Regions from separate parts of the Homo sapiens genome. Here region 1 is linked to region 2. Evidence: fine-mapped expression QTL. A gene starts in region 2. The other region holds a variant in brackets. All regions are shown on one strand. Distances are from middle to middle.

What was found. PIP is the estimated chance that this variant, and not a neighbour inherited with it, causes the effect.
Region 1: its variant is the best candidate, but not a certain one, in a credible set for the expression of COL4A5 in unexposed skin (GTEx, PIP 0.55).

What each region holds. Positions count from the first base shown.
Region 1 is chrX:109,142,946-109,145,864 of GRCh38, forward strand. No RefSeq gene overlaps it. Among named protein-coding and RNA genes, the nearest start is that of GUCY2F, 340 kb to the right of the region's middle. RefSeq lists an enhancer at 1,166-1,716. The variant A/G (reference allele first, on the strand shown) is at 1,442.
Region 2 is chrX:108,438,354-108,441,262 of GRCh38, forward strand. It overlaps COL4A5 (collagen type IV alpha 5 chain), which reads left to right and starts at 1,485. Exons shown (of 53, transcript NM_033380.3): 1 at 1,485-1,853. The coding sequence starts at 1,773. COL4A6 (collagen type IV alpha 6 chain) reads right to left here and starts at 69. Exons shown (of 45, transcript NM_033641.4): 1 at 1-69.

The DNA.
Region 1 (2,919 bases), 700 kb after region 2:
TTATTTGTGGGATGTAAACGTCAAAACAATTGAGTACATGGATATAGACAGTAGGATAGTTATCAGAAGTTGTCAAGGGTAGTGGCACGGTCTTCCCTGTTGACCTGTTTGACAGAGCAGAGACAGTCATTATCTCTCTGGGGACATAATACCAATGGCCTAAGAACCACGCTGTCATCCCCCACAGCTCCTGGAGCAAGCCCCGCCCAAGGAGAACCTGAGCTCAGACACACCTAACCCCACACCAACCTGATAGTCTTTCTCTACCCACCCCAGTAGCTGAAGACAGAGCACATAATCTCTTGAAAGGTCTATGGCCTTGCCCACTGCCTGAGAAACCAGAATATGTGTCCAGCTGACCCTAGGGCAAGCTTGTATCTTCCCCATACTACCGCAGCTGATGCTCCCTTGAAAGCCCCACCTCCTGGCCAGAAGCCAAACAACATAAAACCAGTGCACTAAACAAAAATACAAGCAAGGACCCTCACAGAGTCCACTTCACTCCCCTGCTACCTCCACTGGAACAGGTGCTGGTATCCATGGATGAAAGACCTGAAGACAGATCACATTAAAGAATGCTTTGCAGAAACTCCCCAGTACCAGCCTGGATTCCAGGAGCTCCACTGGGTGGACAGACCCAGAAGAGCAAAAACAACCACTGCAGTTCAGCTCTCAGGAAGCCCTGTCCATAGGGGAAAGGGGAGAACACCACATTAATGGGGTACCCTGTGGGACAAAGAAAAAATCTGCAGCCCTTGAGTCCCAGATTTTCCCTCTGGCATAGTCTACTCAAATGAGAAGGTGTTGTGGAAAGTCAGGGACCCCGAACGGAGGGACTGGCTGAAACCATGGCAGAATGAAATGAATTGTGAAGATTTCATGGGCGTTTATCATTTCCCCAATCAATACTCTTATAATTTCCTATGCCTGTCTTTACTTTAATCTCTTAATCCCATCATCTTCATAAGCTGAGGATATATGTCACCTCAGGACCCTGTAATGATTGTGTTAACTGCAGAAATTGTTCATAAATCATGTGTGTTTGAACAATATGAAACTGGGCACCTTAAGAACAGGGTAACAGTGATTTTCAGGGAACAAGGGAGATAACCTTAAAGTCTGGCTGCCTGTGGGCCGGGCAGGACAGAGCCATATTTCTCTTATTTCCAAAAACGGGTTAGATAAATATGGCTGAATTCTTTCCCCAGTAAGGAATATTAATATTTAACAGCCCTGGGAAAAGAATGCATTCCCAGGGGGGCCTCTAAAATGGCCACCCTGGGACTGTCTGCCTTATGCAGATGTAGATAGGGATGAAACACACCCTAGTCTCCTGCAGCACCCCCAGGCTTGGTAGGATTAGGAAATTCCAGCCTGGCAAATTCTAGTCAGACCAGTTCTCTGCTCTTGAAACCTGTTAAGATGTTTATCATGACAATGC[A/G]TGCACAGCTGGACCTGGAAGTCCATTAGTGATTCTAGTTTTGCCCTGATGTTGTGATCTCACCCTGACCTTCTGCCTTGCGATCTTTTGTTGCCCTTAAAGCATGTGATCTCTGTGACCCATACCCTATTCATACACTCCCTCCCCTTTGAAAATTGCTAACAAAACCTTGCTGGTTTTATGGCTCAGGGGACATCATGGAACCTGCCAACATGTGATGTCTCCCCTGGACACCCAGCTTTAAAATTTCTCTCTTTTGTACTCTTTCTCTTTATTTCTCAGACCGGCCGACACTTAGGGAAAATAGAAAAGGACCCAAGTTGAAATATCAGGGCTGAATTTGACAAATATGACAAAACAAGGTTCTTTAACACCCCCAAAAGATCATACCCACTCACCAGCAATGGATCCAAACCAAGAAAAATATCTATAAATTGCCAGAAAAATAATTCAGAAGGTTGATTATTAAGCTAATCAAGGAGGCAGAAGAGAAAAGTGAAGTCCAACTTAAGGAAATCAAAAGCACGATACATGATATGAAAAAAAAATCTTCAGCAAAACAGCATAAGTAAAAAACAATCAAAACTTCTGGAAATCAAGGCCACACATTGAGAAATGCAAAATGTACTGGAAAGTCTAAGCCATAGACTTGAACAAGCAGAAGAACTTCAGAACTCAAAGACAAGGCTTTTGATTAACCCGATCCATCAAAGACAAAGAAAAAAAAGTTTTAATGAACAAAGCCTCCAAGATGTTTGAGACTATGTTAAACATCCAAACCTAAGAATAATTTGGGTTCCTAAGGAAAAACAGACGTCTAAAAGTTTGGAAAATATATTTCAGGGAATAAATGAGGAAAACATCCCTGATCTTGCTAGAGATCTAGACATCCAAAAACATGAAACTCAAAGAACACTTGGGAAATTCATTGCAAAAAGATCATCACTTAGGCACATAGCTATCAGGTTACGTTTAGTGAAGACAAAGGAAAGAATCTTAAGTGCTGTAAGGCAAAAGTATCAGATAAGCTATAAAGGAAAACTTATCAGATTAACAGCAGATTTCTCAGCAGAAACCCTACAAGCTAGAAGGAATTGGGGGGGTTCCCAATTTTAGTCTCCTTAAACAAAACAATTATCAGCCATGAATTTTGTATCTGGTGAAACTAATCTTCATAAATAAAGGAAAGATACAGTATTTTCCAGATGAACAAATGCTGAGAGAATTCAGCACTACCAAGCCAGCACTACTAGAAGTGCTGAAAGGATCTCTAAATCTTGTAACAAATCCTTGAAATACACCAAAATAGAACCTCCTTAAAGCATAAATCTCACAGGACCTATATAACAATAACACAATGAAAAACACCCAAGATATTCAGGCAACAAATACCATAATGAAAAGAAAAGTACCTCACATCTGAATACTAAAGTTGAATGTAAATGGCCTAAATGCTCCACTTAAAAGATACAGAATGG
Region 2 (2,909 bases):
TAGATAAGAAGTGCTCCAAAGGGAAACAGGCTCAGCGGTGCCCGTTACAACTTGCAGCACTCAGGAGATAGTTCCATGCAGCAGGAGAGGAAAGAATGGAGGGGAAAGGGGCGGGGCTGTCTGCTGTCAATCATCCCCCCTACCTTGGGCAGCCGGTAGTCTTTCTCACTTTCAGGCACCTTTCCACACAACAGCCCTAAGTATCTCCACAGCTTCACACACAGCCCCTTAGAGACCTATACGCTAAGACCTAAGCAACTGTGCATCATATACTTTCAACTTTACTGTTAGGTTACACATAAAGAGACATAGGCATACTATTCCCACATAAGACAGATGGGCCCGAAAGTGCCCTTGCACACATGCCCAAATGCATACAACACTGATTCAAATTGATAGTACACTAGGCTATTGGGAAGGGGAGACAGTTTCTGGAGTTGTAAATCCACTCTGAGCTAAGCAGAACCTAAGGATGAGTGGGCCCTCGTGAAATAGATCCAAAACCTTGAAAGACTCTAAAGTGGTTAATTCTAGGAAGATAGAAATGTTGTGAAGAATTCTTCATCAAATTCTTGAAGATTCTCCAAGGAGTCCGCAGAAAGTATTTTCTAGTTCTTTTGTTACTTTAAAAAAAATCTATATATCAGAATTATCAAAGGAACATTCAAGTCTTTATATGGGAGATATCGATTCAGCTGCCATCAACTCTATTTAAATATTTCCAATTAAGTGTTTATATTAATTCTAAGAAACACTGCACTAAATTTATTTAATTCCCTGCCCTAAATCTTTCTGAAACACAACTACAATGAGAGTCAATACCTTTTACATTAGCTCAATATAGGAGGCATTAATTATAGGATTCAATGCAGCTAAACAGAGATATAGCTGTATTATAATAACATAATACCATAGAATAATTACCAATACCTGCTGAATGCTCCCAGATCTTATACGTATATAACACACATAAAGTATTCACGCACATATACTTATTTTCTTACTTGTTTATAAGCATATACTTTATTTATTCCCAATATTTTCACATCTTCTGCTTGTATGTAGAAACTCTCTGTTCTGTGAGCAGCTGGAAGGTAAAGAAGACCAGCAGCCCAGGGAGCACCGACCAAAATTTGTTTCTAATGAGTAACAATAAAAAGCACGGCCCCTCTGAGATCCATCCGCTAAAAAAATAGTCCCAGTTTAGATCTATTTGTAATTGGCTTTGGTACGCACACCAATGAGATTGGAACTGAGCCTAGAAAAGTAGTATCAACGGAAGGTGCAAATGAACGAATAGAAAAGCTTCCCGGTTGGACTCATGGTGCTCAGTCAACTAGTCTGGAAGTTTCCCTCCCCCAAATAACTGAGCGTCACTCCCTCGCAGGTTGCCGGTGCAGTCTAAAACTGTGGCGGAGTGATACTCAAATTCCCTTGTGCTGGTGAGGAGGGGGGCCTTGCACGGGGAAGAGAGGGAGGAAAGTAGATCTGTAGGAATTGAGTGAAGAAAAAGTTTGCAAGTCTGGACAGAAGGGAAAAGTTCTCCTGAGAGACCGGCTTTGGGGAGGGGAGGGGGGAAGGAAGAGTAGCTCCTTCTTCTTCTTCTTTTTTTTTTCTTCCACTCTTAAAAAGCTTCTTTCTCTTCACCCAAGCCTCACTGTCCCTCTCCGGCTCTAGCTCTCTCCATATAAACCCTCAAGATTATGTCAATTGGTTAGAGCCAGCCGGGAATTTCGTGCGGGTGCTGAAGGAGCTGCGGGAGCCGGAGAAGAATGAAACTGCGTGGAGTCAGCCTGGCTGCCGGCTTGTTCTTACTGGCCCTGAGTCTTTGGGGGCAGCCTGCAGAGGCTGCGGTAAGTCCTTCCTCCCCTCCCCCGCGCCCATCACCGCTCTTTCACGCTGAAATTACCTTTTTTTTGGGGGGGGGGTCCCTTTATCTTCCTTTTGGCGTTGACTAGGGAATTCAAATTTGCTTTCTCATGTTTAGGAAGAAACGTTATTTGCAACACCGGTAACTCAAGCCTTCTGAAGTCCAACGGAGAGGTTTAAGTGCTTAAAAATAGGGCTGCTTGCTTCCCTGCAGCTAGCTCCTCCGGGGGCAAGAGCAAAGTCAGAAGTGGGGGACGCTAATTAAAGGCTCACTAGGCTGTGGTGGGTATTTAAAACTTTTCCTCCCCTCCCTCCACCGTCGGGTGTTTCCCTGCCTGGCGACTAACCTTTTCACTACTTGTACCCAGCCCACTCTTTGAATTTTGTCTGTAGTTTAATATTTTGGCTCTTCGAAAATCCAGCTTCCATCAAAGTGTTTTTAGCGCCTCAGTGAAGTTCGTCCCCTTTGCTCTTTCCTTAAGCAACAGGAACCTACCCCCACCTCAGGTCATTCAAGCCACTGACCTCCTTTTCCCTTTTGACATCCTTGTTACAAATGAAATGCTAAGGCAACATACCAAGAAGAGTGAGGTAAAGTCTCAGGCTTCAGGTCTTTTGCGTCTTTTTGTTGTTGTTGTTTTTTCTAAATTATGGGTTTTTTTGTTTGTTTACTTTTTTTTAAACCTACCAAGGCATCTGAACAAATTGAGAATTTGCCCATCACCTATTCAAAGGAAAATACTCCTTTTTCAAAGGAGAATCAGTGTTCCAGTTTAAAGGAAAGTGGGGGAGGAGGTACATGTGAAATAGCAGCAAAAAGCTCCATTCAGTTTTAGGAATGTAGAATTCAAACCTCAGTATATCTCTTAGAAGGGTATCTGGGTAGTCCCACCCACTGTCCTATTGGGGATGAGGGCCAGATGTTAAAAAAATGAATGGCTTTGTGAGAGAAAATGTTCTCCAGCCTGAAGCCCATCATCTTTAATTTCATATAACCTCTGAAGAATAAGTGTGTGACAAATTATTTAAATTTATTTGAG